2 linked regions of the Homo sapiens genome follow. The protein of the gene in region 2 purifies or fractionates together with the protein of the main gene of each other region. This does not show direct contact. Each region holds a gene or a part of one and is shown on either strand. Other genes may lie near its edges.

Region 1 (3,704 bases), on a different chromosome or scaffold from region 2:
TTCACACCATGCCGGGACGTCCACCTTACTCCCTGAATCAGAGTGGAGTTTTGTGTAGTTTAACATTTTCCTTACACAGGAAGGAAATCATTCTTTTTACAGGGACTTGATACGTAACTCACAGAGTATAGTCCTTCCAAGTCAGAGGCGCGCTTTTCATGAACTCCAGCATCTCAGCTGAGGCCACATCTGGAAGTGCACCCAGCCACCATCAAGGCAACTGTTCCACCCTAGGCCGTGCCCGCCCCCGGCCGCCCCACAGAGCCTTCTACAATTCTCCAGCCAAGTGGAAGGGACGACAGGAACTCTGGTCTAGTCTCCCAGAGCTGAAACGCCACAGCTCTAGGCATTTCAGATGACAAGTGGCAGAGTCTGCACCTCACCTTTATGTGTTCCCAGAACCTTATTGTCTTCTATGGAAATAAAGTGACCAGGTCGAGGCTGCAGATACTGGAAAACAAACATGTCATTACCGACGGAGATCTAGGCCCAGGGCAGACACGCAGCCCCATCTCTTTGTGTCAAAGAGCAGCACGCACCTGAAGAAGGAAATGTTCAAAATTCCTCTTCCCGATGAAACACATGCCCATGCTCTGAAATGAGAAGACGGCAGCCGTGAGAGGAGCAGAAGTGGCGGTGGCCCAAGCTGTACCCAGACGTCCTGAGCGGGCCCTGGGGCCTCCCGGCCTCACCCCACACTTTGCTTCCAGGGTAGGGGCCCGGCTGCCCACCGGCACCCTCGGCCGCCAGTCACAGCCGGCGCACACGATGCCAGAGCCTTAGAGAACGCCTCATTGTCTCGGCCCGCGGGGTCTGACCCTGCGCGGGAGACCCTCACACCAGCTGCCCCGGGGAAGAAAGCAGAACCCGGTCAGGTCCTTCAGGCCACTGTCCTGCGAGGAGTGGGGGAGAGACAGGGACCAGAGAAGGGGCAGGTAGCAGGAAAGCCAGGCCTGAAGCTAAGGCCTTAGGGGAGGGCTCCAGGGGAGTCAGAGGAGAGAGGCGCCTTCCTCAAGCACATCTGCCCTAGCTGGGGAGCCTGGGTGGCGTGCGCTCTCCACCGTGGCCCCATCAGGGGCTGCATCGTTTACTCTGGTTTGTGTCTCTCAAGACTGCCCTTCCATCCCTGCGGCTCCCACCACAGAGCGACACCGGAAACGGAAAACAAGAGGAGAGGAGGACGGGCGGTGGGCGTGCTCTTCAGGGAAGATGGCTCTGATGAAAGGTATGGCCGTTTCCATTACCAGGAAGAGACACGAAGGAGCAACAGCTCCCACCGCACTGGCCCCTGAAGAGGTGAGGCTCATCCCACAGCGCCCTCGCCCTCCATCCCCAAGGCCCTCCCACGGGCTTCATCCTAGTTCCGCCAACACTCCGGGTTCTCTCTTTTTGAGACGAGTTTCGCTGTGTTGCCCAGGCTGTCCTCAAACTCCTGGGTGCGCTCGATCCTCCTGAGGAGCTGGGGCCACAGGCAGGCACCCCCACAGCGGCTCCCTGGCTTCTCCTCGCCTCAAGGCCTTTGCACTGCCGTTCCCTCATCTGGACTTTCCCAGCCCTCTCTGGGACACCGGATCCTCTCCTCCTTCAGGTCTCAGGTTCCATGTGACTTCTTTTGAGGCCGTTTTTGGCATCTCCATTCCCTACTCTCAGACCCCACTGGTGCTTCCCACCCAGGGTCCTACACCTCCCTCCGTAGACATTTTCTAGGTTTACACTGATTGGCCTCCTGCCTGTGTCCCCCACTCGCGGGCGGGCTCCATGGAGGCGAAGATGGAACTGTGTGCGCGTCACCAATTCCTCGCGGCCCAGCAGCACAGCGCCCGAACAGATGGCACCGAACGAGTCTGTGCCGGGCAAGCGGGTGACAGGGCACATGAGTGTGCAGACGGCGGCACAGCACCTGCCCCTCCAGGGGTCTCGGGGCTGCATCACACTGCCTGGCACTCACCTGGCAGGCAGGCCATCCCAAGAGCACCCCACCAGCTGCTAAGGCTGTGGGGAAAGCTGCCTACCACATAGGGGCAGAGGAGAGGAAAAAAGCAAGGAGTCTCGTATAGGCTGCTCCCGATGTCAGCAGAGCCCTGTACCGTGCGCCTCAGCAAACTCCTCCATCTATTGCTCCAAGGCCCGCCTTTGATGTTAGGTCCTGGAGAAGGGGAAGTGGTGCGGGACCCACAGGTCCAGCTGCTCCGTGCCATGCAGTCGGGAAAGGGAAACAGGCACTAATCAAAGGCAACTGCTCACTCGTACCTCTTTCTTCTGAAGCACATGATGAAGTCTATTCTCAGCAGCGATTTTCTTTACAAACTCTTTCGTTAATCCCCCCAGAGGGAAGATGGTTCTCCTCAGGGCATCCTGGGAAACCTGGCTGAGAAAGAAGGTCTGGTCTTTAAAGCTGTCAGCTGCCTGGAGGAGTTTTACCGCTGCCAAGAATAAAGAACAAAAGACGATGCAGGAATAAAAATAATGATACTTCACTTTCAACAATGTCCTTCTGTTCACTTAGACAGACTACCCCTAGCCTGTCAGAGGCAGACATCAACACTCAATAGCAACTACTAGGGAAAAGACCACCACGGGTTAATGTAAGAAAAATTCGCACCTCCAAAAAAAAAAACAAGGATTTTACATGACAAAGAAATTATTCCAGCTCATACTTCAGATTATAATATTTTCAAAGATGAAACATCACATGAAAAAATGTTCTCAAGTGATAAGAAAAAAAAAAAAAAACACCTAAAATAAATTCAGCCAAATCTTGGAAAATGGAGTAAGCTAGTTGCTGGCAGAAAATTCCACTGATATAGTGTCAGCTGTGCCTTCTTCCAACAACCACAGGATGTGTTCGTGCCACAGTGGTTTCAAGGACTCTACACTTTCCAGGTTCACTGCCCGGCGGCCAGCACATGCCTCCAGCAGCGCCCTACCTGTGAAGGCATTAGCTTTCTTGGTAAAAACGTTTTTTTGTTGAGAGTCTCAGCTGACATCTGTTAGGTGACCCTGCAGTTCCTCCGACATTCCCTATGTGATTGTAAAGAACCATTTCTGGCTTTAAGGCAACGGAGCAGAGGTGTGAGTAAACCTGGCTTAGAACCGTCCAGTTCTCCACTCTCGAGTTCAATGATCAATGGCAAAAAACTAAGACGAACGTCAGTTTTCTGGCTTCTTTCAATCTTTCTCATAAACTTCTCCTTTCGAGTTACACTCAGAGCACGCCACATGCCGTGACGGTCAGACAGCACACCTACCCTTCCTGGCTTGGCAGAGCCACGTGTACAGTACACACTCTGCGTAGCTAGTGTTTTCCATCTGCCGATTCCCACGTTAGCCGTGAGAGGGAGAATTCTCCCCACGTTACAGAGGGGAGACTGGAGCCGGCCCAGTTCATCACATATGACTCGCCCAAAGTGATGCAGGTGGAGGCGGTGGGGCTGGAGGCTGCCCAGCCTCCCGAGTCCCCCTCCCTTACTTGGCAGGTACAAACAGCAGAACTGAGTGACAAGTGAGACCAAGTTCAGCCGACCAGTCGCCACGGAAGCAGAGCACTTTCCAGAGTCCACTTTTTTTTTTTTTTTTGAGATGGAGTCTCGCTCTGTCGCCCAGGCTGGAGTGCAGTGGCACATCTCGGCTCACGGCAATCTCCGCCTCCTGGGTTCAAGTGATTCTCCTGTCTCAGCCTCCAGAGTACCTGGGACTACAGGCAT
Region 2 (4,347 bases):
AAGTGTGCCGTGAACCACCTGTCCTCTCTTCTGAGCTGCAAGGAAGGACAAGCCCTGGACAAGGAGTGGCCTGCGTGATCAAATTCCGGGGCTTAGACCCTGTCGCAAGAAAGCCTAGCTGGAGCAAAGGCTGGAGGAGAGGTTTACAAGGGGAATTATCTTCTGTTCACCTGCAAAGACAAGGGGGCAGAGTGTGGCACAAGGAATCTGGAGAAGGTTCCCAAGGGGATGGCTGAGGCGGTCATTTCCAGGGACAGCTGTGTGTGCACACAGGGAAAAAGGCAAAGAGGCCGGTCACGCTGGAGAAAACCTAGAATCTCCACCCCTGCTGCCAATCCTCGTCTGGGAGTTCTCCAGCTCTGCAAACCAGACCTGCAGCCTCAGCCAGAATAGATACCCCACAAAACTGGGGTACAGGCTGAAAAACTCCACTGGGGGTCTGCTCCCCACCTATGGCTACATTTCAGCCTGGCGTCTTGTCATCTGGATGATGGCAATGTACCCACTTTCAACAGCCTGAAGCCATGGAATAGGCTCTTCCCCAAGCCCTGCCCCCAAAGCTCTGCCAGCAACATTCCCTACATTCCAGTGAGAGGAAGGGAATGGCAGTCAGGGAGGGGCATCCCGTGGGGCAGACATGTGGGTGGAGGTAAGAGGAAGAATTACAGAGAGTGCACAAACACCTTTAGCAAGGGAGTCCCCTCTCTAGGTGCAGTACCACACTGGCCACTTCCGGGTCCCCTGCTAGGTTCATCATTGGCAGCACCTCAGATGTCCTTGGATGGAAGTGGAGAGCACCCAGGCCAGGGAAACGAACTAAGCTTTCTAGGAAATAAAGCCTTTTCATTAAAGGAAGCCACCCAAAGAAAGAGGCAACAGCCGCCAAGATTTACCCATTTTTTATTTTTTATAAAACAAGCTACAAATAGTTTCCCTCTCTCCTTCACAAAGGAAAACCACACAACACCACCTACACACACGATCCTGTGGGAGACAAGATGCCTGGGGAGATCTCGAAGATCCAAACATCTACAGGCAGGCGCCGTCTCCATGTGTGCATGCTTCCTCCAGGCCTGAAAGTGGGGCCAGTGTCTCGTGCAAGGCCCACTCAGCTCCGGCACGTTGAGTTCTCTCATTGGGGCTAATGGGAGAAGGCTTCCTTCCCACCTTTCCACGTTGGGGCAGGGCCACCAGTCATTCCTGAGATAACCTCTAGGACTTTCTCCAGGACAGCAGGGACCTCCTTTAGCCCAAGACCCCATCAGATCCTGTCCCGAGAAGGTTGTGCTCCTCCCACAGGGACAGTGCTTGTGGTGCCAACGCCTTCCAGACCCGGAACGGGTGGAGGTACTTTTAGGGATGTCGGGTTGGAATACAAGATGAGGCCAGATTTGCAAGGGTGATCTGAGGAGGGGACCAGTCCAGGGCTACCCAACCTCCCTCACTGCCACCACAGCTGCTTATGGGAAGGGGCGCTAAGGGCCACTTGCTGCTCTGCCTGAAGGCCACTTGAATAGGCACAGCACCTGGGCAGAGGGAGCTGCGCCTCAGACCAGAAGGCTGGGCAGCCCACCCTAGAATCCGCGGAAGATGCCTGTGATGCCTGTGGAAAGCTGGGCCGGGATTTCCCTGTAGCTGGGTTATCACCCCTGCCCTTCTAGGGGAGGCAGAATAGGAAACCCAAGATCAGTTTTACTTCTGGAATTAGCTTAAAGCCTGGAAGCCCATAAGAAAACTTGAGGGAACAGGAAGAACCTCAGTATTGGGTTTTTAAAAAACCAACAAAACAACTTTAGTGTTACCAACAAGGTGACTGACACCTCCCCCAACCCACCCACCCAGGCCTGTGATAGCCACTAGGACAACAGCAGGAGATGGAGGAGTGGAGAGGTCACACCCAATCTGCCCCTGGCACTGAGACAGCTGCGTCTCTGGGAGCCTCACTGGTAGGTTTGCAGGGAGGTGAAGAGTTTCCCTGTTGGCACCGCACCCCTCAGTGCAGGCTTTCTGTCCTGTCCCCTCCCCTGCTTAGATATTAAATATCTACTTTTTTAAAGGCCCTTCTGTGTGTCTTTTTCTTCTTTGCCTCCCCTCTCATGCGTTATACAGAGTAGATGCTAAGCATGGATGAAAACGTTTCGAGTGACGTAATGCAAATCCTTTGTGGATAATTTGCTCCGAGGGTCACTAAGATACTGGTGCACCCACCAATGCTGGGCCCTTTGGGGGTCCGGAGAGCAGGAATGCACGGACCCTCTGAGAGCCGGTACCTGTGTGGGCTATTCATGGGATCTGGACTCCCTTCCTCTCCCAGGGCAGTTTCCATCTCTCCTTAGCCCAACCTCCCTGGACAAGGCCGAGAGCCAAGTGACTTATCAATTTTGACAACTAATGGCATGGGGCAATATAGTCCTCCCACCAGAAAAGAACTCGTGGAGTCCGCAGTACAATTGCAGGACTCCCGTCTTTATACACAAGGGTCAGTCTCCAAACAGAAGTTTAGTAGGCCCAGGATAGAGTCCTGGATTTTAGAAAGCTGGACTATGTGTCCAGAGTGCCCACCACCCACAGCAGGCAGAGGGAGAGAAATAAACAAACAGCAATGCCAATGCCTGTACAAAAGAACTATACAATTTACATATATATTTATATACAGCATATAAATCTCTTTCTTCTCAGCCCCAACAACACCCTCCCCCACCCCCCCAAAACCCTCTAAAAGTTGTCAGTAGCAGATCCAAAAACTTACAATAAGAGAGAGAATAAAGTCTTTCTTCCCTTTCCTTTTCCCACTGTGGTATTAGATATTGGTGTTTTAAAATGAAACCAAAAACAAAACACGCAAGTAAGAGTTATTAAAAGTGCAAACATGGTGGGCACCACTTATGTTACACGGGATGTGGCAGGGCCATGGGCAACGCTGAAGGTTAGGTGTCTGGTGATCCATCCTGCCTCCCTGGACTCTCCACCTGCCCTTGGGTTTTCTGCTCCTTAGACGAGGCGTCCTACTGAGAGAAGGAAGGAGAATGCAAAAAAAAAAAAAAAAAGGTCGGGGGCAGATATAAGCAAGAAGTTAGAGTTGGGCTTGTGAGAAATCCAGCTATGTCCATCAATTTCCCCACAAGTGCAGCCTTTTCCACCTGCTGTCCTCTATGAGGCTAGGTGGGGCACAGGTTGCCTGGACTTGCAGATGAGCATGTTTTACCAGCCTGTCCTTTGCCACTATGAGGCACCACCACTGCAACTGAAATAAGTCTGGCATTGGAGAGAACGAGGCTTGGCCTAGGGAAGTGTGGGTTGCAGGGTGTGCACTCTGTTCAGATCACACTACTCTCACATGCCAGCTTTTCAACCTGGGGCTGGGGTGGAAACGACAGGGGTTTGTTTACAGGTGGGGATGGCAGAATCCCATTGGCACTGACCCAATAGTTCTCTCGTGTCCTCAGCAAACAACCTGAAAATGGGAGCTTAAGTCACCTGGCCAATCCCTTCACCCCTGAGGAGCCCAGAAAGGGGCAACTTACTGAATGGGTTTGTGCCTGCTCATTTTGCCTGGGGGAAACTGCCAAGGCTACCACCTGCAACAAACCAGGAACATGTGACATTGAGTGGCCTTGACCAGAGAACTGGCACCTTCTTCCGTATGCTGGGTCTCTGTCCTCTCTGACCCTCAGAATAAAGAGCAGACTTGGGAAAGAGCAAAAAGTTGTTTGGCCCTACTTTTTGCTCTGTGAGTGTCTATGGCTCAGGTGAACTTATTACTGGCCAACGCCTTCACACAAAGTCCCTTTTCCATAAGGCCTGGCTCCTGCTGGGCACCTCTTTGCAATCCCTCAGCTATCCACTAAGAAGGGCTCTGGTGCTGATGTACCTGGACAGAACTGTCCCAGGTCTTGGTTCCCCGAGTCACAGAATGTCAGAGGTAGAAGGAATCCAGCAGCAGCTCAGAGCAGAGGGGCGACTTACACAAAGTCCCAGCCTCATTCTGCTGACACCCACATCTCCCCACAGGGTGCTGAGCCATTGTGGAAACTGCCACGCCTGCTCCAGCAGGTCCTGGCCTCTTGAAGAGGAGCGAGGAGCTGGGGGCAAGCACATCAAGAGCTGCCCCCCGCCACCACTCCGAGATGCTTAGGGCCACGTGACTCTGTGCATGCCCCTGAACCTCTCTGGGTCAGTCTACAGCCTGGGAGCTAGAACCACAGCTGTACGGCTTCTGCTCTGCCTCCCTCTCAGAATTGCCTTGAGGATCCACTGAATTCATGGAGGAGGAGAAAGGGCTTTGAGGAGTGTACAGCGCTGCAGAACCCAAGCCCACCCGCTGGTCATGTGAGCCACAGCTCCATG

The links. Proteins that work in one complex are often made in the same cells at the same time.
Region 1: the proteins of SMOC1 (region 2) and TRMU purify together in Homo sapiens (affinity purification with mass spectrometry; one large-scale study listed by BioGRID and IntAct). This does not show direct contact.

Annotation. Positions count from the first base shown.
Region 1 is NC_000022.11:46,349,010-46,352,713, reverse strand, and holds part of TRMU (mitochondrial tRNA-specific 2-thiouridylase 1), read right to left. Parts: intron 2,424-3,704; coding exon 2,251-2,423; intron 594-2,250; coding exon 540-593; intron 451-539; coding exon 384-450; intron 1-383. UniProt on the Homo sapiens protein: Catalyzes the 2-thiolation of uridine at the wobble position (U34) of mitochondrial tRNA(Lys), tRNA(Glu) and tRNA(Gln).
Region 2 is NC_000014.9:70,028,903-70,033,249, reverse strand, and holds the end of SMOC1 (SPARC-related modular calcium-binding protein 1 isoform 1 precursor), read right to left. Parts: intron 3,009-4,347; coding exon 2,992-3,008; 3' UTR 884-2,991; downstream 1-883. UniProt on the Homo sapiens protein: Plays essential roles in both eye and limb development. Probable regulator of osteoblast differentiation.